4 linked regions of the Homo sapiens genome follow. The protein of the gene in region 1 interacts with the protein of each later gene in a pairwise test. Each region holds a gene or a part of one and is shown in the gene's direction. Other genes may lie near its edges. The genes, in order: TPRG1, EBAG9, REEP4 and CIDEB.

The links.
Region 2: the proteins of TPRG1 (region 1) and EBAG9 interact in binary tests that used the Homo sapiens proteins (3 or more experiments, as listed by UniProt).
Region 3: the proteins of TPRG1 (region 1) and REEP4 interact in binary tests that used the Homo sapiens proteins (3 or more experiments, as listed by UniProt).
Region 4: the proteins of TPRG1 (region 1) and CIDEB interact in binary tests that used the Homo sapiens proteins (3 or more experiments, as listed by UniProt).

What each region holds. Positions count from the first base shown.
Region 1 is NC_000003.12:189,167,512-189,175,100, forward strand, and holds the start of TPRG1 (tumor protein p63-regulated gene 1 protein), read left to right. Parts: upstream 1-4,459; 5' UTR 4,460-4,620; intron 4,621-7,589.
Region 2 is NC_000008.11:109,535,212-109,543,228, forward strand, and holds the start of EBAG9 (receptor-binding cancer antigen expressed on SiSo cells), read left to right. Parts: upstream 1-4,961; 5' UTR 4,962-5,250; exon of another isoform or gene 5,251-5,514; intron 5,515-8,017. Other genes in the region: EBAG9UORF (uncharacterized protein LOC139907707), read left to right, coding at 4,515-4,589. UniProt on the Homo sapiens protein: May participate in suppression of cell proliferation and induces apoptotic cell death through activation of interleukin-1-beta converting enzyme (ICE)-like proteases.
Region 3 is NC_000008.11:22,138,908-22,146,444, reverse strand, and holds the start of REEP4 (receptor expression-enhancing protein 4), read left to right. Parts: upstream 1-4,537; 5' UTR 4,538-4,962; coding exon 4,963-4,994; intron 4,995-5,747; coding exon 5,748-5,820; intron 5,821-6,196; coding exon 6,197-6,273; intron 6,274-6,361; coding exon 6,362-6,482; intron 6,483-6,915; coding exon 6,916-7,029; intron 7,030-7,383; coding exon 7,384-7,519; intron 7,520-7,537. UniProt on the Homo sapiens protein: Microtubule-binding protein required to ensure proper cell division and nuclear envelope reassembly by sequestering the endoplasmic reticulum away from chromosomes during mitosis.
Region 4 is NC_000014.9:24,304,665-24,312,754, reverse strand, and holds CIDEB (lipid transferase CIDEB), read left to right. Parts: upstream 1-4,777; 5' UTR 4,778-4,896; coding exon 4,897-4,937; exon of another isoform or gene 4,938-5,239; coding exon 5,240-5,384; exon of another isoform or gene 5,385-6,231; coding exon 6,232-6,381; exon of another isoform or gene 6,382-6,617; coding exon 6,618-6,808; exon of another isoform or gene 6,809-6,989; coding exon 6,990-7,122; 3' UTR 7,123-7,568; downstream 7,569-8,090. Other genes in the region: LTB4R2 (leukotriene B4 receptor 2), read right to left, coding at 1,014-2,090; NOP9 (nucleolar protein 9), read right to left, coding at 7,660-7,817. UniProt on the Homo sapiens protein: Lipid transferase specifically expressed in hepatocytes, which promotes unilocular lipid droplet formation by mediating lipid droplet fusion. Lipid droplet fusion promotes their enlargement, restricting lipolysis and favoring lipid storage.

The sequences.
Region 1 (7,589 bases):
ACTGGTTTGTGAGGCCAAGTGCAAAGTGAAAATCCAGCCTCCTTGTTCAAGAACTATTAAGAATTTCAACATGACAACAGCAGAACAAAACCAAGCACAAGGCCCTTCTACCTGCAGGCCTGTGTAACTGCACGAGTTGCATGCCCATGAAGCCATTCTTGGTTGGGGTGGATCAGAAAGTCAGGTGAGGATCTGGAGTGGAGGACCCTCACTGGGTCTCAAACCAAAGCTAAAAACATACAAGAATTCTTCCCCATCTGTAATGAGTGTGAAAAATGGTGCAACATTAGCAGATTGGTATCCAGAGAGTCTCGAAGTATTGCACTTACTTCGAGATTCTGTGGCTGTCAAGAGCAGACCTTATTTTGCAAAGGAGAAAGAGAGGCCAAGATAGAAGAGACGATCCTCTGAAGGTCACATTGCTTGTTAGTGGCAGAATGGGAACTAAATCTTAGGCTTTCTAACTTCCATGCCAGTGCCCTTTTTAGCCCTCAGTGAACCTGTGCGACAATGAAATTGTTCTCTTTCATTGCGGATAAAATTGGAACTTGGAAATAAGAGTGAGATGCAGGGAAGGAAATGAGATCAATGATAAATGAATGGAGAAAACAAAACAGTTTAGGAAGCCAAAGCAGTTTGTCTGAGTCCTATCTGATACACAACATACAGCAAAGCAGACAAATGTGTATGTGGCAAAACAAAACTGGAGGAAGCAGATATTTTCAAATAAAATATGCATATTTCCAACCAGCCTTGAGCTCATCTGATAAGGGACAGATTGTCCGGAGTAAATAGAGAGAGAAAAAAAGATGCTTTGGGCTGAATTTAGTCCCTTGTCAAAAGCAGAAGGGGCTTTTTGTTTCTCCTTCTCTGAAATGTCACCTCTCTAGCTGTGAGGCCTTGTAGGGCTGTGAAGGAAAACAGAGTAGTTTGTATATTCATTCGTTTACTCATCCACCCATCCGTCAAAGTAGGTATCTTTTGAGTACCTACTATTGGCATTGTACTGTGCTAGATTCTAAAAAGAATGTCTTGTTTAAGACATGGTCCTTATCTTTAAAGAGGGTAGACAGATGCATATTGGGGAAGAAAACTAACTATAAGAGGGCGGTACTAGTGACGTGTGTGGTGTACTATTGGAACGCAAGAGAAGGGGAAATTCATATTGCTTAGTACCTGTTCACTTCAAAAGCTGCTGCCAGTATCTGTTCATTGTCATTGAACTCCTCTTTCCCAAAAGACTCCTGGGACAAGGGGTGTATCTGGGGAGTTGGGATATGGGATTCTTGTAGACAGTACCTATTTACCCCCAGTGATGCATGTTTATTTACCAATTTTTATCTGCATGATCCACTATGAGGGAGACCTGGACATGAGGTGATTCTGGTTCATACCTGACCAGGATCCATGCCACCTGTACTTCCTCCTGCCCATCTGCTGCCCCAGGCAGTGTGTAAGAGAACAGCCCTGCTGAGTCCAGGGAGGAGACTAGCTTGTGTGATCATCAGGATGTCACTCCATCCCCATTTGAAAAATGGCAGAAGAGGGGTTCTAACATACCAGTGTTTCCTAACCTAAATAAGTAACAACATACGTTATTTCTCATAGACACTAGAGCTGAATGAGAAGAGGAAGAACAATAATTTGTAAAAGCTATTATTATTATTATTTGAGATGGAGTCTCACTCTGGTGCCCAGGCTGGAGTGCAGTGGAGCGATCTTGGCTCACTGCAACCTCCGCCTCCTGGGCTTAAGCGATTCTCCTGCCTCAGCCTCCCATGTAGCTGGGATTACAGGGGCCCGCCACTGCGCCCGGCTAATTTTTGTATTTTTAGTAGAGACAGGGTTTCACCATGTTGGCCACGCTGGTCTTGAACTCCTGACCTCAGATGATCCGCTCACCTCGGCCTCCCAAAGTGCTGGGATTACAGGCATGAGCCACCAGGCCCGGCCTGTAAAGGTTATTATAGAAGAGAGAGAAGAGACAGGACACAGAGAGAAATGATCTCTGAAGGCCAATCTGGTAAAAATTATTCTGTGCTTCCCTGCTCCTTGGCTGTTGAGCATGTCCTCTACTGGGAGATCTGTACATAGCCTTTGCTATGCCTGGAAATACAGACATGAAGTGAATTCTTATATATAGCCATATGTTCTGTCATAGTATTGCTTCACATTCATACCAATACTTTGAATTTTACAAAGCTCTTATCACCTCCAGGAGCTCATTTTCTCCCTCAACAGCCCAGGGAGGTTGGTGGGATCTGTACTGTAACTCCCATTGCACGGAAGAGGCAATCAAGGCTTGGGGAAAACTAAGCTACTTGCCTCTGATCCCAGTGAGCAGCTGAGCAGGGACCAGAGCTGAGGTTTTCCGTGTGGCATTACTCCTACTGCTTGTGCCCCTCCTGGATGTATTATGTTACTGCAGGCTGCAGTATGGCGGAGCTCAGCATGAGCTGGGAGGAGTGTTCAGTGGCCGCTGGAAACCTAACGATAATTAGATGGATGCCGTGTGAACAATTGATGTCTTTTCACAGAGTTTCTTGCCCTTTAAAATAGCATACTTCAAACAGCAGTGCATTGCTTAGTCCTTCTCTTAAGAGACCAGGCTGGGATCCAGCATGTCTCCACTCCTCCTGCCTTTTGTGCCCCCACCCTGAGCTGTCATAAAGACATTTGGAGCTGAGTGGGAACGGTATTTGCCTCGCAATTATTTCTAATTGCCCTGTAGTTTTGTGGCGTCTAAGTGGTGTGACCTAGATACCGGTTCTGTAAAACTCTCTTTTCAGCCTGGGGTCTGTATTAGGGAGGGGGCATAAATCAGTTTGATCAGGTAACTGTGGCTGAGTCCATCTCACCAATAACATTTATACCCAACTCTACCATCTGTGCTTGTTGAAATCCTGGCTCTTCTTAACAGCCCGGATCTAATGCCGCCTCCACCGCTGTGCAGCCTTCCTGGAGTTGCTCCCTCCTCTGGATTACCATAGTACTTGTTAGGATCCTGTCTGTGGTGCTCATCATCTTCTATATCGTGCAATGCTAATTCACTTACAAATTTTATCTTCTTGAGCTCCTTATGCCAGAGAATGTGTTTGGTTCCTTTTCATATCCTTGTCTATGTGGATAACTGAGAAAGCTCAAGGTAGTTGCTCAGTTAACTACTGTTGAGTTAGTATACATGACGTCCTCGACACGGTGGAAGCAGGTAAAAGGACTGTTTATTCATTGTGACCTCTCCTGAGTGGCGAGTTGCCAGTTTGCACTTCATTTCCTGTGGAATCGCTTCATGACCTCAGTATTCCTGGAACTTTAAACAACATTTTTTGAAGGGTGAATATTAGTTATTTTTCTTTTAAAAGAATGGAATTCAACCAATTTACTTTGTCAGCGCACACCCGTTCCTCCAGCCATCAAACAAATACAATCTGATTTGGCCAGAGTCTGCTGAATGAAGTAGAGAATTTAGGATAGAAGATTGAAATTCAATCATACACATAACAGCATTTTGTTTTCTGTGCTCTCCTTTCTTTCAGCAATCCACCTACTTGTGCAGTTCATACTTTATTTTATACCAACTCTGTATGTAGAACACACTTGCTTAGGTTTCAGAATGTGTTCATTAAGATTCTATTTCATTTTTTTAGCACCGTTGCTATGTCAAATCTTATCCTAGGTTTATTCTCATATGCTTCCTTTCAAGTTCTATCTGCATTTCTGAAGGAGAAATGATACTCTCAACTTACAGATGACCAAAATTAAAAAACCTCAGAAAGATAGATTATGACTTGCTATAGGCTGCAAAGCCATTAAATGACAGATCAGGATTCACTAAATAGATATTAATGGATCATCATTAATTCAATGTGTATTTATTTATTACCTACTATCTGCTGGGTGTTTTGAGGAGTATATGAGAGAATAAGATGTAGCATTGCCCTCAAGGGGCCCCCCATCTAGGGAGGGGGATACACACTTACATAGAGACAATATCATGTGGCACATTTCCTAATAGGAATACTGACCAGAGATTGTGTGTACATGTGTTTGTTTTCAGAGATACACTGCTCTACATGTCTTCTACATTTTTGACAAGAGTGGTAGTGATGCTTAAAATCACAAATATCCAATAAATCAAGCCATCATAAAGAATATTAATGATAGGAGTGTAGGCCTCAGGCTTAAGCTTAATTATAACTACTTGGAGGCATACAGAAGCCATGGAGGAATGGATGATAGGCTGCTCCTGCTCCCTCAGCTGGATGTGTATTAGAGGGAGTTGGCAGAAAAATGCAGGACTTCTTGAGGGAGAGGACAGGAGGTAAAGGTGTGTCATTGCAGAACAAGAAAGGCCCCACCCACAAACCCAATTCTCTGCCTCTGACGGGTTGAGTTCCACCCTGTAAACATCCTCAGTCCTTTCATTTGACTATTTGAGGGTGGCAGTGTAACTCTCAGCCTACTTGGTGAAGTGAGATTCAGACTGAGTGGGGTCACAGCACAGGGCACTGTCTTGCCTGGCTTTATCTGAGCCAATCACACCTCTCCTGGCCACTATCTGTGGTCTAGCCCCCTTTGTGCAGAAAGAGAAAGAAGAGCCTTGAGGACCAGCCTAGTCAGGTAAGATCAAGTGGCTTGTCACTGGTTCTGCAGAGATGGGTTATTTCTCTATGAACCAATTGCTTCTGTCCCCTAAGCCGAGTTTCTGGTCACCTCCCCCACTGACTTGCAGTTTGGTTTAGGTTTGTAGTTTTGCATTACCATGTGAAATTTCCCTATTCTTCCTTACTGTCCAGGGTTGATGAGGCTTGTAGGCTAGCATTTTTTAGCCTATAAAGCCACTTGACATACTTATCTATATATTGATTTTGATCTTAACTGCCCTATAGTGCAGTAGGATGGGTATAATTTTCTCCATTTGGTGGCTTAGTGAACTGAAGCTTGGTCAATTGAAGTGATTTGTTCCAATTGGATCAGCAGGTTAAGGCCAAGATTAGATTTGATTCCTTCTTCCCTCTTCCTCTATTATAGAACCCAGCAGGTCATACCTTATCCCCAAAAGCCAAAAGAAGTGAAAAGCCTTTCTGAACCGTTAAATGGCAAACAAAAGGTGATTATTTCTTTGCAGGCAGTTTGAGAGGGTTATTTTTGAATTCATCTGAGGGAAATTTCATAATAATATATAGGTCCCATCAAACAGGGCTGTTTTTAGAGAACAAACGAGGGCATGTATGTAAAGGGGAGTTGTAAACTGAAAGGTGATAGGCAAATGAGACAGCGATGACTACTTGGCGCCTGAGACATCCTCCAGATCTCTGTATAAGCAGGTTTTAATTCGGGGCTAAATGACACTCTCCAAATGTCAGAGGCAGCGTAGTGAGGCACAGATCATACAGGCCCTGGGGAAATATTTTAGCTTTTCAGTCACACTGTGGTATGTAGAAAAGCAAATCTCAATGGGGGAAAAACACCCCCAAATCCTTTCAAATACACTCATGCAATTTCCTCTCTTGTGACAGCTATCATAGTATCTCATTGTTCTACAGTTTTAAGGAAATCTCATCTTCAGTTATTATGTAGTTTACTTTTTAAGATGCTAATTTTAGCTATCATTTTTCTTTTCATGCTCAAAAGGTTATATCATTCTTAGTTGTGGAAGGAAATGTTTCCTCTGTGTGTGTGTGCATGTGTGTATGTGTGTGTGTGTCTGTTTGAGTTTATTATGACAGTACTGATAGTCATCCCTTGGGGCCACCACAAATGCATTGGGTTGTAATGCTATATAATCTTTGGCAGACTTCTATATATTCTTTTTCTTTCTTTTCTTCTTCTTTTTTTTTTTTTTTGAGACAGAGCCTTGCTCTGTTGCCCAGGCTGGAGGGTAGTGGCGCGATCTCGGCTCACTGCAGCCTCCACCTCCCGGGTTCAAGCGATTCTCCTGCCTCAGCCTCCTGAGTAGCTGGGATTACAGGCATGCACCACCACACCTGGCTAGTTTTTGTATTTTTAGTAGAGACGGGGTTTCACCATGTTGGTCAGGCTGGAACTTCTATATATTCTTGGTGTCTTTCTGGCTGTAAGGATCCTGAAGAAATCGTTTAATTGATTACTTTATTCAAAACAGAGAAACTGAGGCCCAGAAAGATGAAGTGATATGCACAAGTCACACAGCCAGTATCATTGGAGCTGCAAGTCACATATGGGTCTCTTACTCTTTCATTGCCCACAATATGTAGTGAATGGTGCTAGGAGTCCCAAGCAGAAGCATTAGCCATGTCATTTTGGAGACTGTAACTAGATGTCCTTTAAGATTTCTTCCAATTAAGAGTTTTAGGGCACTTTGACCTTTGCTTAGCATCTACTGGAGATGGTATCATGCCCTTTAGAGCAGGGAAATCTGTCAGAGAAGCCTCTCTCTTTATTGACTTGGTTCTTCTGGAATATTTGCTTCGGCCAAATGTTGGAGCTGCTCCTTAGGTATAAGATGGGGAGATGGGCAAGAGGTGGTGGCATCTTCATTTTCTTCAGCCTGTCTGGATTTTTATATTTTCTGGGATCTTCCTAAATAAGTGCCACTCAGTTTGATCCTTTTAAAACTTGAAGTGATAGTTGATATTTTACTCAACATTGTTTAATCTAATGGCAGCGTCAAGTCCGAGAATTCATTTACTCCAGAGCTTGCAGAGCAGCAGCCACAGGTGAATCCAGCATGCAGATGTGCTTTGTTTGTGCTGCCATGTTAAACAAGATAAAACTAGTTCCAAAGTATTTGATATCTAGGAAATTTCCTGTAAAAAATCCAGATATCTTGTTTTCAGGAAGATCAGGAGATCTGATAATAATGGACCCACATCCCCTCATGGATAACACCTGTGCTGGGGCCGGGCAGCAACTTCTTCCTGTAGATAGAACATGTTTTCCCCCATCCTCCACAGCTCCCATTTTACCTGATTTAGGCTACCAAGTGTTTGAATTTTCCACTTCTGATCTCTTCCAATCTCTTAGGTATTAGGATTCCTTTCAATCATTCTCTTTCAACGGAAACCTAGTTCTACATAATGACAGACCAGGCTACAGGTTAATGGCACCAGGGAAGAGGTGAAGTTAATTATTTGTTCCTAACCTCTCACTATGTAAGAGATATAGGATATATGATGACTTCAGTAGAACATACCGTTGGCTCTGATACCTACCCAGGATATTTTCTTCAGCTAGCTATCAAAACTCAGTGACTTGAATGCTAAAGTATTAAGCAAGATGACACTGCTGCAGCATAATATTTAGATGCCTATAAAAGAATAGGAAGGACAGTTGATACTTGCAGGGTAATCCTCTTTACTCAATCGATCAATGGCATAAAAACAAGAAAAGAAATTATGATGTATGATAGCACATAGATAGCAATATAATGCCCTGTTTCCAAAGAATCCAAATTGCTGAAATACTAGAGACTAGCTTAATGATATGTTTTCTCTTATTCACCCACTAATATAATAATCACCTTTTGATCACCTATGGTGTATTATACAACCCTAAGCTTAGGGATTTAGGGGTAAAGAGTAGAGACCCTTTCTCAAAGGGGCTTACCA
Region 2 (8,017 bases), on another chromosome or scaffold:
AAAATTCCTTTTGTGCAAGATATTTATGACTGTGCCTGGCTACATGGCAATAGTATTTTCCTTTGGTTTTTCATTACAGTAACTTATGCATTTAGGCAGATGATCCTTTATATATGTAAACGCTATAAATTCTTAGGAAGAAAATAAATTTATTAAGTTTTTCACATCAAAAATTTCTAGTATGATTATGAGTTCAATTTTCAAGTGAAAGTAATCCTTAAAGGATTTAATTTCAAATAAGAACTACGTACAAAATATAGATTTAAATTAATTTTCACTGTATGAAATGTACAGTATACATAGACCAACTCCTTTAACAAGAATTTCTGGTATGTCTTAAAGGGCATGGGTGGTTAGAGGGAGATCCCCAAACAAACAATTCAAAATTAAGAGTTTAAAAAGCAACAATCAAGACACATATCCTCCTAAGTGAATTTGAATTAGACACTGGAAAATTTAAAAAGGTCAGTTACTATGAAGAAGGTGTAACAATATTTATATTAATCAGACAGCAAAGTAACAAACTGACTTAGAGGAAGGAAAATAGTAAAATACAAAAGACTAAGTTAGCAGATCATTTTGATATCCAGATGTGCTGAAATGATGGACACTGAGAAGAAAGAATAGACAAAACTTGGCAACAGATCTTGGTATGAAATAAATATCCCATGAGTAGTACATAAAAGCCTGGAGAGAGAGGGGAAGGATTGTAAGTGTCATAGTTCTGACAGCTGCTCTTTCATCCTATGCCTTTAAAACAAAGGGAACAAAGAAGGGAACAAAGAAGGTAGAAGCGGGGGTATGGAGGGTTGACTTCTGGCTGTCCCTCCCTGTTTCCCTTTGTTAATATATTGCTAGTAGACATGTCTACTTCTGGTTGCTGATGACATAAAATTCACCTCTATTTCTTGGAAGCACTATTCCATGTTGTGAGCTAAAGGGGATTGTACTGATCTTGAAGATAACAAATCTGCCTGCTTCAAAGGTTTCACCGATTTTATTGCTGTGTTTCCAACACATTTCCACATATGGTATGATATTTAATTTGCAAAATAAATCCGTAAAGCAGGAATTACTAACCTAATTTTGCAGATGAGAAAACTGAGGCTTAAAGTTGTTCAAGGTCAAAGTCACGATGTCCATCATGCTGTAGCTCAATGAATGAGTCTCACATTGTTTCATGTTGTTTTATTTCTACTTTCTCAATCCATGTACAAGATAGATTTACAAACTACTGTTTTATGTTGGTTGTATGAATTTCAATACATTTACTGTTAGAAATAACAAAAGGTCTTAGACTGCCAGATGCTGTTCCCATCAACTCTACTTAATTCATAATATAGCTGAACTCTGTCATAAATCTAATAACGATGTGGACATTAGCCAGAAGTATGATGTGGCTGAACCTCACCACTGAACACAAAATGAGAATTCACCTCATCTTTTCATTTGAATTTATTTCTACTAAAATATATGTATTATTTTTCTTGATTTCTAACCAGGCCCCTTCTGAAGAAAACTGGTTAACTCTAAATTGTTACTAAATTTTGAATCTTCCTGTATTTAGCAATAAAAGTTACTGCTAATTGTAATAACAATTATGAGGAAAAATTTATTTAAATGCTTCATAGAAAGTTAATTTTCATTTAATAGAAAAGAAATAAAAAATCTGCTTCAGACTGTTTGATTTCTCTATTAGGCAATTGACCCTAACTAGTATATGGTGATTTTGAGTATTAAAAAAGAAGTTATAATTTTCCAGAATATTAATGTTTATTATTTTGAAAGCAAGTAAAATTCTCCAGTAGGAAGATTAATAAAACAATTCATTAAAATTCTCATCAGAAAATCCTATGCTTTCAAATGTATCTGCTCAAAGATGTCACTCTATGTGCGGCAAAGCTTTGTTTTACTTGATCAAGAAATGAATGTGACTTTATGATCTTGTATTCAACTGTGAACAGCTGCTCATTAATAAAAAGCCATTAAAGTCCAAGTCAGAACAGCAGGTCTAAAATTGTGTTTGAGGGAAAAAAAACCCACCCTTTGATGAAAAGCCAGGGAACTGGGTTGGGAAAGATCTGGAAGCAGAGGGCTGTGTTTGCAGTCTGCTCCTACCTCCTGGGCCAGGTCAGGTGACAAGGCCAGAGTTAGCCCCAGCTGGAGAAGTCAGAACAAAGCCTATGTAGGCTTTGAAAGGGGAGAGTAAGTGGTGGGCTGGAGGTTGATAGTGTGAATAAATCAAGCTGGTAATTGGGCAGAGGCTGATCAGAAGCGTTAAAGTGAGCAAAATGGTTTGGACACAGAGCAGACAGAATTTACTATATTCCATTGAGTAAAAGAAATTCATATGCCAGGTTCTATCCCTTATGTTCCTCCCATTTGACATCTGGTGGTTTCCTACCCCCGTCCCACACAAGCTTTGGGGAGAGGACAGGACTTAAAGTTCCCTGTTCCCAAGAGGTGGTCCCTAAACCCAATCCCAAATTATTGACTTGTGATCCCAATTATGGGCTTACTATTTAACAAGTAAAGATGATTTTAAAATATTATTTTATAGGTATTACTAAAGTAAATTTTAAATTTGCAGTCTTTAGCGAGCTTTGTTTTCTGTTTTGCTATTGTGTTGGGAAACAAGTACTCAGTAACTAGCTGTTTCTGGAAAAGTATATACATTTCGTTTTGTTTCATTTGGAAATGGCAAATTTAATAAAGAAAACTGAAGAATCAGGAAAAAGAAGAAAATATCCTTGGGCATAATAAATTGTCTAAAGCAATCAACTCTTTAAGAAAAAAAATTTAAACACGTTTATATCCGAATATAGGTTATTTTGGATTTTTTTTTTTTTTTTTTTTGAGTCAGGGTCCTGCTCTGTCTCCCAGGCTGGAGTGCAGGGCCCAATCATGGCTCACTGTAGTCTCGACCTCCCAGGCTCAGGTGATTCTTCCCACCTCAGCCTTCTGAGTAGCTGGGACTACAGGCATGCGCCACCAAACCTGGCTAATTTTTAAATTATTTGTAGAAACGGAGTTTCGCCCGTTGCCTGGGCTGGTCTTAAATTCCTGGGCTCAAGCGTTCCTCCTGCCTCGGCCTCCCAAAGTGCTGAGATTACAGGCATGAGTTACCGTGCCCAGCTAGATAACTCGATTTTTTAAATCCAAAAAAAATTTAGAAATTTTATATTGAAATTTAGGCATTAGAATTCTAGAGATTAAAGTTAGAGCAGGTGTTTAAGGGACTGAAAGGGGTTGCATGGCCTTTGGGAAATGCAATTACCGGAAATGATACTGTAGTAATGCAATAGTAATGCAGTAGTAGTAGTAGCTGCAGCAACAACTGTTATCTATGAATGTTTGCTATGTGCCAGGCTCTGTGCTAAGAGAGCTTTGCAAGCATTACTACTGCATGAAGTAGGCACTATTATGGCCATTTTACTGATGAGGAAATTGAGGTGAACAGATTAAATAATTTTACCCAACTTTACACAGAACCATTCCAGAGCACGAGCCATAAACACATCTTTCCCGTCTTGGAAATTAAATTATTAATAAAAAACGTGGTGCAAATTGGAAAGAGGACGGTTGTGGTAGATTATCACAAAGTTAAGTGGGTAGGTGGTTGCTGGGTCAGGGTGGGAGAACAAAGGCAGCTGTAATAAAAAAAAAAATTAAAGGCATATAAAGAAAAAGGCTTGTTGAGAACAATTTGCATAAACTGATTTTGGCCTTAGACCCTATTCACTTCTCCCTCACCAGTCACTTTGCAACTGTGGAGCATAGTATTCTGAGGGTCCCCTGCACATAACAACCCCTTTCATAGCATACAAGATAAAAAGAAGAATCAGGCTGCAAAGAGAGAAGCACTGAAGGAAAGAACATCTCAGGTTGAAAGAAGGGCAAGTCCAGGGTGCATGTGAGGAACAAATGCATGGACACGGTGAAGTGCCACTTCTTCATTTCTAGTTCAACACAATTCAATTAAAAATTACTGGGAGGAGGCTACGTCTTGAATTAAACTCAGCATTCCACATCTTTGAGGTGGCGGAATGACTGAGGGGAGGGGGTCTGTCTAGCCACATCCAAATCTTCCTGAGACAGAGGGAGATCCCTCATTTGTTGCAGTGTATTTTCCTTGGTCGCATCTGACACAGGGGTTCTGTGGGTTGAACAGAAAGGGACTTTGCTGGAGGGGAGGCACTCTGCATAGAAGGAAAGTAGGGACATCTGGCAGAAGCAGGCGCTCCGAGAATAAACAGTCAAAGCAGCTCGCAATAGTCCCAAAAAGCTACCCCTCACCGAACCTGGCGTGCCTGTCGCCGCTTGCCCCGCTCCCAGGGCTCATTGGCTCCCAGTCTCGACGTCAGACCCGTAGCCTCTCACCTATTGGGCCAGCCAGGACCTGAGGCGGAGTGCAGAAGCGAGGGCCTGGAGACAGCCGAGAGCCGCCTTCAAGGAGGGCTGGGGGCGGGGCTAGAGGAGGGGCTGGGGGCGGGTTTCCCGATGAAGGGGCGGCCATGGCAGCTGCGCAGAGGCAACGCAGGCTGCTACGGAGCGCGCGCCCGGCTTTGAATGAGCGGGGCTGGGAGTGAGCGGGCGGAGCGCGAGCTCGAGGAAGAGACAGGCAGCGCGCGTGAGCGCGCCTTGTGTGCGCGCGCGGCCCGCGGCAGCTCGGAGCCTCCGCCGGGCGGGCGGGGAGGGGGAGGGGCAGGTGAGTGTGTGCGGTTCGCGCGTGCCTGGGAGGGGCTTTCCTCTCCCTACCCCCATCCCGACCCCAGCCCTAGCCTCTGGGGCATTGTCTGCCCTTCGCCGTCGGCCCTCCGCCTAGCCGCGCACTTCCCGCCCTCCCACCTTCCTTTCGCCCTTCCACCAGACCTCCCTCGACGCCCGACAGCTGCTCTGGGTACTGTTTCCGGGTCAGGGTGACCTCTGGGGTGAGGAAACTGCGACTGGGAGCGGGACCCAGGCGTGCAGCATTCGCCATGCTCCGCTCACGCGTGGGAGACTGGGCTGTGGGGTACCGGCCCGGAAAGCACGCAGCCTCCAAAGCCGCCTTCCTCAGGGAAATTTGCGTGACCTTACTGCCCTCCGTCTACAGGCCTTGTACCTCTCCAGGCCGATTTTTCCACAATTTAAATCTCAGTTCACCTGGTATCCAGCTCCAGCAACTTAGAGCGTTTCACGTCACGCCGGGCGCCAGGCGTCGGCTTGTATAACCTGAAAACGCTCCTGTTTTTCTCATCTGTGCAGTGGGTATGATTTTTTTTTCATCAACAAATTTCACGTGGGTAATCTGAAATGAAACCACTTAAGTTATGAAACTCTTTCCTTTTGAGTTATTCTGGAGACCTTACTCCGCCTTCGGAACCGCCCCAGTGGTGTCACATACTTGAGGGCCTGACTCTCGGTTGCCAGACATGGCACAGAATGTTCGATTTTACTACCAGCTCTCACACTCCGCTTCTGTTTCCCCTTCTCTTACGGGCCGCTGCTCAAACCTTTATTTATCAAATTTAAGTGAGTTCAGGTAAATTTTATTTTGGGAGCTTTGTAATATTTTCTAACCCACTTCAGAGAGTTATAGTTTGAGGATATTCTGGACTGTACTAGATCATATGGTTTTCAAATTTTGGTATGAAAAGATTCGTAAATAGAGTTTTAGAAATACAGCACCTGTTTAGTATGTACCGAACATAGATTTTGGCTTTGCTTGTTTTGTGAATTGTGATGTATTGAGGCTACTTGAAAGGACCTCTAGCAGTTTACCGAGAATTTCAACAAGAAAAGATATAATACATTTGATCTATCAGTTTCTAATGTAGCATTCTTTTTTTAATTGTATTTTTTTTCCGTTAACATGGCAGAGCTCTCATTCTTGATTTCCTAGAGTTGTCATTTCTTCAAAAAGCCTTAATGAGGATACATTGCCTCATAGTTTTGAATCTCATTCTGATATACCTCAAATTTTTGTCTTTGTAATTTTTAAGGAAATTTAATGTTAAGATTAGATTATATTAACATTGTTCCGTTCTAGAAAGTGTTTTAAAGCAACTAAAGTGTAAAGTAGCGTAAGATACTTATCAAATTGGTGATCTAGAGGGCATTTCAAAAATCGCACTGAGGCAATGTGCACACAATTAAAAGGTTTCTTAAGTAGGATATGATGTAGGGAGAGCCTTGGGCTTTCGGGTCAGTCCCTTTAAATCCTGGGTAAGTGAATCTAAGTCTGTCAACCTCATCTATTAAACGGGAGTAGTGAAAAACCTACCTCTTTTGGTTGTCCTTAGGATTCCAGTGAGGTGATCGAACATTGTCTTGAGCGTTCAAGTGCTCAAGGAATGTTAGTTTCCTTCCATTCAACAAATATTTGAGTACCTACTATGTGCCCGGCTTTGACTGAGACCTATAAATACCAGAATGAGCAAGACTGATGGACGTCCTGCCTCCTTAGTTTCTTGCATTCCTCAGGGATAAGTTTATGGGCAAGCTCATGACAACTGGGAGTGAACGCAGAGTTTCCCCATGCGGAGTTGGTAGTATTTCCCAGCTTCCAAATCCAAAGTAGCGACTGAAACATAGTAGGTGCTAATATATATTCATTTAGATGAATAGGGACATTAAGTAAATACAGGTCTCAAAGGATATTCCTGCCTGCCAGTCAGTGTGATTGATAAAATCAAAGTGTGGCTTGATCGCATTTTCCCTATTTTAGTGCAACTGGTTGGAAAATTTATCTTGGAAGTGGTAGTATCACTGAATTATTAAGAATGTTCCTTGTTCATGAGATGTTCTTGGCTTTTGAATTAAATATACCTAGGTTTGAATGGAGTCACTGGATGTGCTTACTCTGTGTTTAATTCAATGAAACAAGGACAATAGTATCTATGTCATAAGATGGCTTTTTGAGTTGTGTGTTAACATTTTGATAGTGCATGGTTCATAGTAGACAGTCAATGAGTATCAGTTCTCCTCTTTTATTAATCACAAAAGGAAGTTTTCTGCAGAATGAGGATATTCTTGATTGCTAGGGAGAGAATTCTATTCTGTAATCACTAAAAGACCCAGTTTCTATTTTTTATTGGGAAAAAAAAAACAACCTTTAAATTTTACCTCCAGTTAGCATTGAAGTTATTCAAGTTGGCAAATATTTATAAAACAATGACACTAACAATATTTGGAAAGGTGATGGCTGTGGTTACTAGGGCAGTTTATGAAATTTATTCTCAACTTTTATTCATGTATATCCTAAAACTGACAGTCCCAAATGGTAAATATCATTTTTCTTCACAACATACTGATAGAGTATCTCCTTGATTCTATTTCCTTCCCTGCCAAGTACCACACGTTCTGTAGTCTCTTTTCTGGCTCTTTTTTCTTATAATTTTTCAGAAAATTTAGGCTAATTTTCATTTGAGAAAGTTTTCTTTTGATTGAGAGTTTTGTTCTTGACAAATCAGCTTTAAATGAAGTGATTGTTCACCATCATAATTTTTCAGATCATTCTACTCATAATGAAGCAATCAAACTTTTTTTTCAAGTCTTACTTTGCAAATGGTAACTGAAGGTACCAAATGAATAAAATACTCTAGAGAAGGGTTGTACAGGGCAAAGTAAGGTATAGAAATAACCATAATACAAAATAAAAAATGTTGTTTCTTGGGAAGAGTAAAATACTAGAATTAAGAAGACTTTACAGTACTCCAGCAAGAGGTAGTAAAGGCTTATGCTAGATAGATTACAGTGGAAATAGGAAAGAATATGGGCAGTACTGGGAAATTGAATAGGGTCTTTTTGGCAATTAGGTGTAAGGAGAAAGAAAGGAGGAGTCAGCATTGTTGCATGATTTGAACTTGAGTAAACCACTGGTTGGGATGTTTTTGACAGAAGTATTTAAATAACTCGAGTACAATTTTTAATATTCTGGTTCTTTTTTTTTTTTTTTTTTTTTTTTTTTTTTTAACAGTCACTGTTCTTTTCATCCTGTCAATTAGTAGGCCACTTCCAGGTTAGGCATTCAGTA
Region 3 (7,537 bases), on another chromosome or scaffold:
CCGCCACATCCACCCAGATGAGGCCTTGGAGTCCTAGGTGACATCTGGATCTCTCTTCTCCCATATTTCATAAGCCACCAAGTTCTCTCCATTCTTTGTCCCAAAGGTTTGCTAGATGGGCACTTTTTTGTTTTGCTCTTTCCCAGCTCAAAGCTTTGTCCAAACACTCTTCATCGCCCATTGTCTTGGGTCCCTTGCCAGCCCCCACCAACCCGCTTCTCAGTCTGATTTTTTTTTTTTTTTTTGGAGATGGAGTTTCGCTCTTGTTGTCCAGGCTGGAGTGCAATGGCGCGATCTCGGCTCACCACAACCTCTGCCTCCCAGGTTCAAGCAATTCTCCTGCCTCAGCCTCCTGAGTAGCTGGGATTACAGTCATGCACCACCACACCTGGCTAATTTTGTATTTTTAATAGAGACGGGGTTTCTCCATGTTGGTCAGGCTGATCTTGAACTCCCGACCTCAGGTGATCTGCTGGCCTCAGCCTTCCAAAGTGCTGGGATTATAGGCGTGAGCCACTGAGCCTGGCTTTTTTTTTTTTTTTTTTTAAAGATGGAGTTTCTCTCTTGTAGCCCAGGCTGGAGTGAGGTGGCCCTGTCTTGGCTCACTACAATCTCCGCCTCCCAGGTTCAAGTGATTATCCTGCCTCAGCCTCTTGAGTAGCTGGGACTACAGGTGCCCACCACCACGCCTGGTTAATTTTTGTATTTTTAGGAGAGACGGGGTTTCACCATGTTGGCCAGGCTAGTCTCAAAGTCCCAACCTCAGGTGATCCGCCTGTCTCGGCCTCCCAAAGTGCTGGGATTACAGACGTGAGCCACCACGCTCAGCCATCGGTCTGATCTTTCTAACACACACTTTCCTCCTGTCCTCCCCTGCTCAGGAACCTGCCTTGGCTTCCTGCTCAACAAACCCATGAGCCTCTGCCCACCATGAAGGTTCCTGTGACCTGGTCCCACCGTACACACCCAAGCCCTGTGGGCAGTCAGGGTCCCTCAACATCTCTGTGAGTGGAGTCGAGAGAGTCTAAGACAGTCAGATGGGGGCCGGGTGGGGGACAGTGCTCAGGGTGTCAGTGCAAGTAATGGGGTCTCGGGGACAGCACACTGAATGGCAAAACAGGTGTTGTCAAGCTGTGGGGACCCCTTTTCTCCTCTTCCCCCATGGGCTTGAGTAAATGAAATCCTTTTGTGGCCTTGTGTGGGTTGGTGACAGTGTAAGGGACAGGGGATGGAAACGGGGGAAATGATAGATCCTTGGGCAGTGGTGCTTGCTGTGTGACCCTGGGCAGGTCAAATCCCTTCTCTGAGTCTCCAGGTTTTCATTTGTCCTCCAGAGCCCCTCTCAGCTCTCGCATATCACAAAAACCCTTCGTTTCTCTCTCTTCAGCGAGCACCTGTGAGCAGCTGTGCACAGAGGAGTGGGGTCTGGAGCCTGGATAACATGGGTGTGAATTCTGGCTCAGTCCCTTTCCATGGTGTGAGATTTCAAGCAAGTCAGCTGATTTCCCTGAGCTTCAATTTCTCCTTCTGTGAAGCAGATTTAAAAACCCCACTTCATGGGTTCCTGATTCTGCCAGCCGGGTGAAACCAGCTAGTAACATTCAGCCACGTTACTTAGCCTATTTGTGCCTCGGTTTTTCTTATTTATAAAATGAGTATAATCGTGATACCTACCTGACAGGGTTTGTTGTTTGTTTTTTCCAGCTTAGGCTGGAGTGCAGTAGTGCGATCTTGAGTCACTGCAACCTCAGCCTCCTAGGTTCAATTAATTCTCCTGCCTCAGCCTTCCAAGTAGCTGGGACTACAGGAGCACGCCCCCACCCCTGACTAATTTTCATATTTTTAGTAGAGATGGGTTTCACCATGTTCACCAGACTGGTCTCGAACTCCTGACCTCAATGATCTGCCGTCCTCGGCCTCCCAAAGTGTTGGGATTACTACAGGCATGAGCCACCGCATCCTACCCTGACAGGATTATTTCTCATGAGAGTGAAATGCATTAGTATATGTAAGTCCATTTGTATAGTGTGTCCAGCACATGATTATGATTTGCCTTGGTCTATGGGAATATATGAAAACAGAAGTGGCTCAGAGAGGGGTGTTTTGTGCAAGAGGAGGAGGTGGATCTTTGGAGAGAACTGTCTGTGGGTGATGGTTCCTCACCCATCCTCAGTCTTGGAGCCCCTGTGCCCCATATCTTACCTGCAGCCTCTGACCTGGCCTCCTCACCCCCAGCAATAGGTGACTTACCTGCTTTTCACCTCCTCAAATATGCTCTTAGCTTAGCAGGCACCTCCATCATTCTGGGGAGGCCTGTCCTTCTTTTCCAAATGGGAAACGGGCCCTTATCCTGTGCTTGGGAGAGGTTGCCAGGGAAAGTGGGTTGAGTCTCCCAGACACGCTGGCACTCTGCTGCCCAGTAGAAAGATAAATATCACTTTGACAGCTGCTGCCCCCAGGGGGGAGCTCTTCTGAGGGGTGGGAGGCACTTTCCTCCCTTGGCCCGAGTGCCTGGCTTTCTGTGTGTGCCTGCTGGGTCACTTGCCCTGGGGCTTGTCCACGTCCAGAGTGCTGCTTAGCAACCCAGTGGAATTGGGTGACTGTGTCAACAGCTCAGGACCAAAGGCTGCAAGAGGCAAGGTCTACTCACTCTGCCAAGACCAGGGATGGTGACACTCCTCAGCTGCCAGCCTCTTGCCCTCCGTGCTGAGCCTTGCTGTCAGCGCAGACCTCTGACATCTCTTCTCTGAGATTTCCCAAGCACAGGCATTGGGACCAGGAGTCTCCATACGGGAGACCATCCCAGCTGAATGAGCTTTGGGCGGGCCCAGGTAATGTTTCCCAGCAAATGGGGGTAGACAGAGGCCTGTGATGCTGAGGTCAGGTGCGTGGCCCCAGAAGGCAGCCAGCAGGGAAGGGACAGTTCTGCAGCACGCACCAAAGGACCCGAGGCTCACGTGTGCAGTGACCTCCTGAGTCATGGATGTCCCTTTCAGCTGCTCCCCTATTCAGTCACAGCTTTCCTCCTTCAGGGAGACCCAGGACACTTTTCACCTAGAGAACCATGTCTGTGCCTAAAGATGGACAGTGGCTGGGGCCTTCCTTAGGAGTTCCTCTAGCCCTTGGCCTTTTTGGTTACTCCAATGTGTGTGTGTAAGGGGGGACAGGTAAATGTGAGGGTTGGTTAAGAGAGGAGAGGGAGACATGGGGCCTCGGGGAAGTTTCTCCTGTGGGCTGGTTTCACTGCTGGCTCTCACACCCAGCAATACCAATAAAACTGATGACAGTAATTAAGACCATATAATCACCGTGTGTTTATTTATCCCCCAGAAGCCTCCTTTCCCTGGCCCCATGATTACCTATTCCATCCTTATGATAGCTGGTGGGGGTTAACTGTGGCTCCAATAAAAAGCAGTAACTGCCTGTGTTTCCACCCCACATGCCCGGACAGCTTTGCTCCCACCCTCTGCAAGGTGGGGGGACACTATTTTCAGAGGGAACAACAGAGGCAGTAAGCTGAAGATGTCAAAAAGAATGAAACCTCACAGGGCAAGTAGTAGAAGCAGCAACGTTTGCCTTCTTTTTTAGAGCCTTCCCCCTTCTTCCTGGCATCTGCCTCCCTCCCAGAGGAACTTATCCGGTTCCATGGCCCTCTGCAGGGCCACTCAGCCTGCAGCTGCTGATCTCTCAGAAGACTGATCAAGCCAAGCATGTAGCCACCAGCCAGCAATAAATACCACTGGGTGATACCAGGAAAGTTACTTTTCACCACTGAGCATCCTATTTCCTACATGGTTAAAAGAAGTTTGCAAAGACTAAGACCTTGCGTGCAAACGTGCATTACAAAATGGCAATGGTTGATACTACTATTAAGGGCCCAGGGTTATTTGTGTACTTGGCTCAGAGGAATAGGTGGAATTTCAAACTTCTGCTGAAGGAGTGTGGGAGCTGAGAGCTCTACCCAGAATGCCTCAAATCATCGCGGTCAGCCTGCCCCGGAGTCAGGGATCTGGAAAGGCATCCCAGAGAGAAGGGAACCCCTGAAACCTGGTGGGGCAAAAAGTCCCTCAGGTTCCCTCTCCCCCCACACCTCCCCCCTTTCCCTCCTGGACCCACTGGTGTGAGACCCGGACTTGCTGGCGCTCAGCCAAGCTTCCTTCCAGCTCCTGACTGAGCCTGCAGAGGAGATCCTTCCCTCTACCCCACCAACCGCATCTCATGCCTTTACCCGGTTCACAGAGGGGAAAATGAGGCGAGAGGGAAAGACACCGGGAAAAGCCAGTGAAGGGTCGCTTAAACTCTGGAGTCCAGATTTTCTTTGTGTGCCGACCCCCGCACTCCCCCTGCTTTTTTGTTACAGCTTCCCACACGCTAATCTTTCCGATTGGGAAGGTGGCTCCACTGTGGGCCCCACGCGCGAGTCCCGCGGCACATCGCCCCTTTAAGGGGCCGGCCTCTCGCCTCCCTGACCTCGCCCCGCCCCCTCCGGGGCTACACTGCGCCTGCGTGGCAAGCCGGAGCCCTGGGGTTGGGCAGCACTCGGTTCCGTGCAACTTTCAAGTGAGTTGCGAACTCCGCCCTGTAGGCCGGTGCTGGTGGCCCGGCGCGCTGGAACCGCGGCGACCCGCTCCAGCGCGGGACCAGCAGCAAGGGCCGAGCGCCAGGTTCTCCGCGGCAGAAAGGGCGGGTGGGAGCTGTAACTGCCCCGGCCGCGGGGCGCGCCCGCTCCCAAGTCGGCTTCCTCCCCGCCGGGGCCGCTTTGCCTCGGGTCTCCCCATTCTCCAGGTCCCCTGAACTGCACAGTCGGAGGCCGTGGGCGGCGGGCTCTGCCTCCGCCGAGGGACAGCCGGATCGCCCCTCTGCTTCCCGCAACTGCCCTGATCACCCCCCGTCCCAGCCCTTGAGTGAACGTCCTTCTGAGCGGCTTCCTGGGGTCCTCCCCACGTCCCAAAGGCCGGCAAGATGGTGTCCTGGATGATCTGTCGCCTGGTGGTGTGAGTATGGCCGCCCTCAGACCTCCTCTACCCCGGGGTGCCGTCCCGCCCCTGTGGTGGAAGCTGTGGACGTCTAGTGGGAGGAGGAACTTTCTGAGCTCCACCCTCCAGCACTCCATGCAAGGGTTAACGGACCTGTGGGCTTGCACGCGGTGTCTGGGGCACCGCAGGCTACCCGCCCCACCAAGCCTCGTTGGCTGAGAACGACCCCTGCCGCACGCCACACACACTGCAAACAGATGCGTGGAGCCGAGGGCCACAGGCCTACCTTGCTGCCCCTTGGCAAACACAAGGTGATATGGCACGTTGTGGGCGGAGAATCCAGGTGCCTGCTTGCCATCTGAGCAGTCACATGACTCACCATCCTATTCCTCACCTTTGAGTATGCCAACATCTGGCTCACATAGCCCTATCTGCAACCCAGCAGTGTCAGGTCTGGTGACCCTGGGCCTGATTGCATGCCCATGGGAGGGGACAGTCTGGTGTTCTCACCCACTTCGTGGAGTGGCTGTCCTCTCACTCCATCATGCACCCATGGGCCACCGGTGCAGGCCTGGGCAGGCTTGGGATGTTTGTAAACAGCAGGGTGGGGAGGTGGCCTCCAGGGCTCTGACTCAGGCACGGGTTGTACAAGCCAAGCGAGAAAAACAGGGCGGGTACTGCCACCTTGCACCCCAGTGGGGGGAAATGGCCACTTGGCAAGGTGGGAGTGGGGCATGGTGCCCCTCACACTCCCCATGGCTGCTCTTCCAGGCTGGTGTTTGGGATGCTGTGTCCAGCTTATGCTTCCTATAAGGCTGTGAAGACCAAGAACATTCGTGAATATGTGAGCGTGGGGGTTTGGGTGTGTTTAATAGGACTTGGTGAGGTGGGGAGGGTCTCAGTTGGCCTCTCCCTCCTCCAGGGGCAAGGCTGTGTGGCACATCCTGAGTGGAGTGGGGAGGGAGAGAGAATGGGCCCTGTTCAAGAGGGTGTAGATAGAGGGCAGGCCATCGGGGTGCCTGTGGAAGATCTGGTGGGTGAAGCTTGTTGGAGGCGGGCATAGGAATGAGCAGCAGTTTCTCAGAGCTCCTGTCCAGCCATGTGTGGGGGAAAGCAGCTATGCAGCCGGACAGGCTCCCTGGAATCTCTGGGCTGGGCTGGCCTGGGTTGGGAGTTGGTGCTGCAGGCCCCATGCTGACCTCTGGGCGCTCACCCCACAGGTGCGGTGGATGATGTACTGGATTGTTTTTGCACTCTTCATGGCAGCAGAGATCGTTACAGACATTTTTATCTCCTGGTATGGACGCAGGGTCCGCAAGCCATGGGTCAGGGGTGGCCCCCCCAGCCCTGCTCCTTGGCTCACCCTGCCCCTTGTGCTGTGACAGGTTCCCTTTCTACTATGAGATCAAGATGGCCTTCGTGCTGTGGCTGCTCTCACCCTACACCAAGGGCGCCAGCCTGCTTTACCGCAAGTTTGTCCACCCGTCCCTGTCCCGCCATGAGAAGGTACCCCAGGGGGAAGCGGGAAGGGAGGCTTAGGGGTGGGTATGAGGGAAAGAGCCCTGGACCTGGGATTTAGGATGCTGGGGACACCGGGGTTCTATCCCAGTCCTGCTGCTATTGAGGGGCAGGACCTTGACAGGGCCCAGCCTACCTCATCTTCTGGGATAATCAGGTGGGGGTACACATGAATGACCTTTGAGGATGGAAATTGGTTTGGGGGTAGTGGTGGCGGCAGCTGGAGCATGGCCACTCATGGAGGTGTGAGCGGGTGGCAGCCCTGCTCTTGGTCTGTGTTTGTGGCCCGGATTTGTGGCTCTGGGCACCAGGTGGGGCTGGGCTGGGCTGGGTGGCGCCACAACCAGTGGCTTCTCAGAATCTGCAGAGGAAGAGGGACTCTGGCTGTCCACCTGAGCTCTCCTCCCCATTGGGTCCACAGGAGATCGACGCGTACATCGTGCAGGCCAAGGAGCGCAGCTACGAGACCGTGCTCAGCTTCGGGAAGCGGGGCCTCAACATTGCCGCCTCCGCTGCTGTGCAGGCTGCCACCAAGGTGCTCTGGGCCCCCAGCCCTCCAGCAGCCCCCATCCCACCCCTAAGGCCCTTTGGGCTCATTCAGCTCCTCTGCCAGGGAGCCCAGAGATGGCAGCCGGGGAGCAGGGGTGAGAAGGTGACGGGGGGGTATTGGCAGAAGCGTGGAGCTGGAGTCAGACCTTCCTTCCTGGCTCTGGCACTGAGCGTAAGCAGCGGCTCCTGCTCTCTGACTTTGGTTTCCTGTTGGTGCCACATTGGCGCGGGGCCAGAAGCTTGCTGAGCAGTTTTCACTTCTGCGTCTCAGCTCCGGTGATTAGCTGGTTGGCCAATATCCCTGGGCAGCCTCCCCGCTGAAGCCTCTTCCCCCTCGCAGAGTCAGGGGGCGCTGGCCGGCAGGCTGCGGAGCTTCTCCATGCAGGACCTGCGCTCCATCTCTGACGCACCTGCCCCTGCCTACCATGACCCCCTCTACCTGGAGGACCAGGTGTCCCACCGGAGGCCACCCATTGGTGAGCGGGCAGAGGGGC
Region 4 (8,090 bases), on another chromosome or scaffold:
CAAAGGGGTCAGGATCTAGAACCGTTTTTAGACCTAGATAAGGATTCCAAAAGGTGGGGGCAGAGAAGTATTGGGGAACGGGCTAGGAATAGCTAGCAGCATCTTAGAAGGAGCCCAGACTTGGCAAAGAGAAAAAGAATATGTGGCACTTCTCTGAAAAATTATTCCTGTCCTCTAAATATTCCTGCCATTCCTCATACCCCAATGGCCAACCTCCAAACTTCCCTGACTGAGTGCTTGCTCCTGGCTCCTTTTCACGTCAGGTGGCCTTTGCAGGGAGGATCAGATGGTCAGGGGGCAAGGTAAGTCTCAGACTCCCAGGGCCCCTACACCACTGTCCACTCCTTGTGTGCCTGTCTCATACTCACTGGACCAAATACAAGACAGGCAGGAAAACTTCCTTTTCAAACCCCACAGATTCATTTTCCCCTTCAGAGCCATTTCCTCCTCAGAGGCTTTTATAAGCCTCAGAGAATGGATCCCATTCCTACCCCTCATCCAAGCTCCCATACCTCTCCTTCCATTTTCTCCTTTATTTCCAGAGTGGTTCTATGGGTTGGCCTGTGGAACCAGGGCACCTGGGCTGAGGAGGGCAGGTCAAGATGCCACTGAAGGCTGGCACTGCCCAGCCTGGCTTGACCCAGCAGGGAACTAGGTGGCTTCAGTACAACTCAGGCATGAAGAACCACCAGGGGAAGCACACTTAAGTCATCATCTAATGGCTTCCCAGTGTATTTCACAATAACAGCTATTGGCAACAAGTAAGCAATGCTGGCACATGGGTACATGCCAACTTGCAAGCACACAATAGTCCTTAACAGGGACCATCACCACCCTCATAATCCCTCAGTTTGGAGGAGCCTGGGCCTGCCCCAAGTGTATAGTAATCCTACCCAGCCAGATCCAAACTCTAGTCAAAGAAGGGTCCCCAAATGTCCCAGAACACTGACCTCTGGAGGGTGGGTGGGGGGTGGAAAGGGACAGGGAAGGGCAGCAGGTTGTAGGGTCTGCTGTCAAAGGTCCCATTCCGGACCGTCCTTCTCCATCCCACCCCCCGGGTCTCCATTGCCGCGGCCCTGCCCCACCACTTTCAGCTGAGGGGTAGTTCGGAGCTCCATGGTCCCTTCCCTAGAGCGGCCGCCCCCTCGGGCCTCCCCAGAGCCTTCGAAGAGCCGCGTGAGGAAACGGGGACCTGCCCGGGGCAGCAGATCTCCAGCGGTGAAGACGTAGAGCACCGGGTTGACGCTAGAACTGAAGAAGGCCAAGGCCGTAGTTCCCGCTCGCGCCGCCTGGCCGGCTCCGCCCAGCTTCGCCAAGGCCCCTTCCGGTGGAGCCAGCGCTGCGACCGCCTGCAGAAGGTTGACTGCGTGGTAGGGGGCCCAGAGCAAGCCGAAGGCAAGCACGATGGCGCTCACCAGCCGGCCCACCCGCGCCCCGTGCCGCCCGGAGCCCCAGCGGGCGCCCCGCAGCCGTGCCAGCGTCACGCTGTAGCAGCCGAGCATCAGCCCGAAAGGAAGCACGAAAGCGGTCAGAGTCTCCAGGCTCAGGTGGGCGGCGGCGTGGACCGGCGACGGGTGGCACAGCTGGCATACGCGGTCCCTCCACAGGTGGCGGTAGACGGCGGCCGGGACGGCGAGCAACAGGGCGGCCAGCCAGACCGCCAGCAGCAGGCGGCGGGCCAGGGCCGGGCTGCGCAGCCGAGGCGCCAGGAAGGGGCGGGTGACTGCGAGGCAGCGCTGCAGGCTGAGCAGGCCGGTGAGCAGCACGCTGGCGTACATGCTGAGCGCGCACACGTAGTACACCGCCTTGCAGCCCGCCTGGCCCAGCGGCCAGGCCTGCCGGGTCAGGAAGGCCACAAAGAGCGGCGTGAGCAGCAGCACCGCGCCGTCGGCCAGCGCCAGGTGCAGCACAAGCGTGGCCGCCAGCGGTCGCCCCCGTGCAGGCCGCCAGCCCGCCAAGCTCCACACCACGAAGCCGTTGCCAGGCAGCCCCAGCAGCGCCGCCAGCAGCAGGAAGGCTGTGCCTGTGGCCCGCGAAGTCTTCCAGCTCAGCAGTGTCTCGTTCCCTGGGGGACGGTAGCAGACCGACATCCTTCTGGGCCTACAGGTGGGTGGAAGGCGCCACAGAGGGCGTTCAGGGGTGGGGCAAAACCCCACCTGTGATGCCCGATGAGAAGGTGCCATGCCTCCTCCTTACTTCCCTGCAGCCTGCCTCTTTTCTGCCTGGGAGTCCTGACTTCCACGAGGACCCAGACCCCACCTCAAACACAACTCCTTCTTGGAACCCAGATCCCCTGCTCCCAGTCAGTTGACCTGCCCCACTCCTGGCCTCCTTCCCAGAGCTCAGTGGTAAACAGGCATAAAGTCATCACCCCAGGCTGTCACTATCTCTACCACCACTCCTCTAGTCTGGCCCCTCCTTCTTTGTCCAGCCCCATTCTAGCACATCTGGGCAAAACTGGATGGTGGGGTGTAAAGGGACGTGCACAGATCTACTTACCAAGCTGGGAGCAAGCAGGATTGGGGGCCTGGAGAAGCTGAAAGGTTAAGCAGCAGTAGGCGAGGTGCCTACTCCTGTCCTGTGCCTATCACATTTGCAGAGGGTAAGACAAGAATGGGGAGGGACAAGATGAGGCTCATCCTGGGCCTCTCCTGGGGCCCCTCCCTCACCCTGCTCCTTCCCATCACCAACGCACCCAGGCGTCCAGGCATGTGAGAGCCTGCCTTGCCAGGAAACAGCACAAGCTGAAGTGGGGCAGTAAGATTCCCTGGTGGTGGAAGGAAATAGGAGGACTCTGCTGAATCCTGGTCCTGCTTCTGTTCTCATCCCTCCCCCAGCTCTGGCCCCAATCCTCCCAGCCCACCTTCTGCAGTGTGTATGTTGCCTGGTCTCTCTGGCCTGCAGAGGTGACCCAAACAACTCAGTCCCCCACCTGCCTTATCCTTGCCTGTTTCCAGTCTCCTGGTCCGGCTGAGCCCCTGGCCTCCTACCTCCTCCCACCTCTTGCCTCAGGCCCTGCCCCAGTCACTCCACCCTCAGGGCTCTCACCGGGCTGTCAATGACAGCTTTTCCATGTAAGGCATGGTGCTAGGTTCCAGGAGGAACAGGGGATGCATGGAGGCATAATGGTTAGGGAGTCATGACACACAACCATGAAGAGGCCCCATTACCAGGCTGCACCAGGATACAAGACAAGAAAGGAAAGGATGAGTAGGGACATACTAAGAAGCAGCCCTCTCCTCTTGGAAAAGTCAAGCAAAACTTGGAAATGAAGAGATTTGAGGGGGGCCTGGCAGATGGATAGAGCTGGGGGAAGGGAAAAGAAAGGCCTCTGCTCAAGTAACAGCCAGAACTTGAGGTTGCTTGGGGAGGGCACCAGGAGCACTGTCTTAGTTTGGGTTCTTCCAAAGCAGAGCTTGAGCTAAGGGCTTGGGTACAGGTGATCCTGTATTCTTGAGCTAAGGGCTTGGGTACAGGTGATCCTGTATTTGGGAGGTTAACTCAGGAAGTGAGGGCATAAGGTAAAACAAGAGAGAGGAAAGCCATTAAGAGTATGTTAAGTCCCTTCAGTAGGCCTTGGGAACCTCTGAGAAAAGTATAGATTGCCCAAGACAAAAGACTGGCAGGGTGATCAGTCCAAAGCATTTATTAGGAGAATGTACTTAATGAGTGGGCTACAGCGTATCCTCACAACAGACAGTGAGAGAGAGTTGTTCTACCTGGGTATATCCAAAACAAGGGGGTCAGGGTATGGAGTTTACGAGGGTTCAAGGTATTTGGTTCAGGGCCAGGGCCAGTTTTTTTCAGTGTTTTGGGCAACAACCTGAATACCTTTTCAAGGCTCTGGCTTGGGCTCAAGCCTGCAGGGGAAATGCAACTGGCCAGGTCACAGGGCAATCAAGTTACTCTGTGTTTCTTTGTCAGGACACAGAAAAAAAGTGGGGAAGCTGGGGGACCCTACAAGGATCCTTGGCAGGAAAGCAGGGATTGTGTTCATTTGAGGGTTTCACTGTCAGTGAGAGTCTCAGCTTCCATGCAACTGTCCATCACGGCTGCAACTGAAATCAGAGCTGGGACACAGCGCACCAGAAGCTAAAGTCTTGATGCCATCAAAGGACATCCCTGCCCCATTCACATCTCTGTCACGTCCACTAATCGGCAAAAGGAGAAAAGTGAGAGAAGATGACCTAAGTGTGACTGCAGCAGGCAGCTCTGGAAAATGAAGCCAGAGCAGTGAGCCAGCCCCTCCTCCGACCAAGGAGGAAGGAAAGAGCAGGTAAGCAGGAAGGCCAGTGTCCCAGACAGGACCCTAATGATCCTGAATCCATGTATCAGGATCCATCCTCTCCTTACACCCTTCCTGGACACAGTCTCACCTCTCATTTTCCAAAGCCCTGCCATGCTGCCATCCCACTTCCCCACACTCTGCCCCGGGTTCCCTTTTCCTAAAGCTGCAGCTTATGGCTTCTCCAGTAGGTGGCAGCACACACAGAGCCACTCATAAACTGCAGCTTCTCAGAGCCTGAGAGCCAGAAACCGTCCCCAGAAATTCCCTCCATAGAAATAAAAAAACACCAGAAGTCACATTTCATCCTTTTACATGGTTCCCATCTACCCTCACAACACATGTCATCACCAAAGACACACATACAAGCTCCAATGGCTTTTGCCAGGCAATTCTTCCTCCAGGACCCCATCTGGCCCCTCCCTCATCCCTCCCCTTGGACTTTGCCCTTCTTACTGGCCAGGCAGGGGGGCCAGAGTCCAGGCTTGACTCATTCCCACCTTGTCCTGGGCTGAGATCCCAGGTTTGTAACAGAAAACACCACTAAAGCCCCAGCACAGGAGAGAACCACCCAGCCCAGAAGTTCCAGGGAAGGAACTCTCCGGTCCACCATGGAGTACCTCTCAGCTCTGAACCCCAGTGACTTACTCAGGTGACTGCTAACCCTCCGCTCTACCCTCCACCTTTAGGGGATATAGGCAGGGCAACAATACTCCACTCAGCCCCTAGGAGACTAACCAGTACCCCTTCCTCTCCTGCTCCCCACTCCACAGTGGGCTTGTCAAGCTCCTGAGCCACCCGCCCCCACCTGCACTCCATGGTCTCTCCCTCATCCCTAATCGATAAACCTAGATCTCTCCCTCCCTAGCCCTCTAGCCACTCTACCCTCATCATGCCCTTTACACTCACCAAGCCCCTCCTCGCCCCTTCTTGACTTTTCTTCTCAACTACCAGGTCAGTATCTAATATAAGCTCGGAGTTTGGACGGAGGGTCTGGACCTCAGCTCCACCACCCCAGCGACCTTTCCGTGTCTGTGATCACAAGCGGACCATCCGGAAAGGCCTGACAGCTGCCACCCGCCAGGAGCTGCTAGCCAAAGTAAGTAGGCCAAGTTCCTCGGTTCCTATAGCAGGGGTAGCCAAGGGGCTCCACAACAGTGGCAACTTGTGATGATGGAGCAGAGGGCTGAAGTCACACAGCTGCCCCTCCCTCTGAGGGCTAAAAGCAGCGGAGTGGGCCTAATGAGCTCTGGTCAATTTGTTCATTTTCCACCGAGTGAGCTTTTCTATGGGAGCAGGGGTTAGCAGGAGATAGGGAGAGTTCGAGGGACAGAATTCAGAAGCTAGTATGGAAAGGTGATTTGTGTGACAAATCAAGTTCAAATTCTGATTCTGCCACTTCCTGCCTGTCAAACCTTGGGAAGTTGTTCAACCTACCAAAACCTCAGTTTCTTCAACTATAAAAAGGCAATAATAATACATCACCTCCTAGGGTTGTTGAAAGGAGTAAGAGGATAATGTAGGTAAAGTCCTCATACCTGGCACAGAGTAAGGACTCAAAAAGGTTAAACACTATTACTGAAAACACTTCTGGAGAACTCTTGAGGGTGTGGGAAGTGAGGTGCAGCATTGTAGATAAGACAGAAGGGTGGACTTCGTGAGAACCTGGCTTGCTTTCCAATTCCAAACCAGAAGTGACTTGGAGGGGAGCAAGGGGAGATGCCAATGACATGGTAGGAGCAAAGAGGAAAAAGGTCAGCCTCTAGCTAGGATCCCCCAAAAACTGAAGAACACGGAGAGCTGCAACCTTTAGGAGGTATCAAAGTGCCGGAAAGTCAAAGTGGGACATCGACCAATGTCTAGAGCCAACTGATGGATGTTGGGCAGCTAAAGAGGGAAGGGGCATGGGATAAGACCTGCCCTTCTTGCTTCTTGCCATTGGGCAGGCATTGGAGACCCTACTGCTGAATGGAGTGCTAACCCTGGTGCTAGAGGAGGATGGAACTGCAGTGGACAGTGAGGACTTCTTCCAGCTGCTGGAGGATGACACGTGCCTGATGGTGTTGCAGTCTGGTCAGAGCTGGAGCCCTACAAGGGTAAGAGGCCTATACTGGGGCTGCTTCCAATGCCTGTCCTTTAGAGCTTTCCCGGGCTTCCTCTCTAGCTTAACCCTGATCCTGGGGACCAGGTGCAGGAGGAGTTGTGGAATTGTCAAGGATGTCACACAGTGGACAGAAAGTCCAAGCGAGGGAGGGTCTGACCCAGTGCTGATGGAGATTAGTGGTGGGTGTCTGGTATGAGGATCTACTGCACTGACAAGGGTGTCCTACAGAGTGGAGTGCTGTCATATGGCCTGGGACGGGAGAGGCCCAAGCACAGCAAGGACATCGCCCGATTCACCTTTGACGTGTACAAGCAAAACCCTCGAGACCTCTTTGGCAGCCTGAATGTCAAAGCCACATTCTACGGGCTCTACTCTATGAGTTGTGACTTTCAAGGACTTGGCCCAAAGAAAGTACTCAGGTCAGAAATCAACATGTCATACTGCCCCATCCCCTACAGTTGGATAGTCCCCATAATTCGTCCTCTTGCACCCACCTACCCCTAGTTAGCTCTTGCTTGTGGAAAGTCCTCATCTCCCAGCTTGATGGCTTCCTCCCAAGTTTTCCAAATCATCTGATTTCCTCTTGTCTCTGCCATTCAGGGAGCTCCTTCGTTGGACCTCCACACTGCTGCAAGGCCTGGGCCATATGTTGCTGGGAATTTCCTCCACCCTTCGTCATGCAGTGGAGGGGGCTGAGCAGTGGCAGCAGAAGGGCCGCCTCCATTCCTACTAAGGGGCTCTGAGCTTCTGCCCCCAGAATCATTCCAACCGACCCACTGCAAAGACTATGACAGCATCAAATTTCAGGACCTGCAGACAGTACAGGCTAGATAACCCACCCAATTTCCCCACTGTCCTCTGATCCCCTCGTGACAGAACCTTTCAGCATAACGCCTCACATCCCAAGTCTATACCCTTACCTGAAGAATGCTGTTCTTTCCTAGCCACCTTTCTGGCCTCCCACTTGCCCTGAAAGGCCAAGATCAAGATGTCCCCCAGGCATCTTGATCCCAGCCTGACTGCTGCTACATCTAATCCCCTACCAATGCCTCCTGTCCCTAAACTCCCCAGCATACTGATGACAGCCCTCTCTGACTTTACCTTGAGATCTGTCTTCATACCCTTCCCCTCAAACTAACAAAAACATTTCCAATAAAAATATCAAATATTTACCACTAAGACTTCTGACTCCAATTTAAACCAGGAAAGGGATGGGGTGGATACCCCATTTTGCCCTCCCCCATCAACACCCAGTCCCAGATCCAAAGCCTCAGTCTTCAAGTATGGAGTTCAATGCCCGCCTCCGCTTGGCCACCGCACCCTGCTGCTGTTCCCAAGCCTCTCGCCGCTTTAGGAAGGTAGTCAAGGCCACATTTCGAGCCACATGGTGGCCGAAAGGGTCTCTTATCAGCTCCTGGTTCTGCTCCCCTGCAAAGGGAACCACTCATGTTTAGTACTACCATGCTCAAAGACAGACTCTACTTGACGTAAAGATCCCTCCATTTCCCCCAGACCCTGGGACTGCCACTGGGATAAAGTGAACACTTCACTTTCCAAAGAACAGAAGTCAGAGGGCAGGGTGAGGGCAGAGGACTACACAATCAGTCAGCGGGAGGGAAGGGGAAAGCAGACTGCTAAGAACCCATGAGCAAGACCACCCTTTGGAACTAAAGACTGTTGAATTTCAGTAGACTTCCCAGC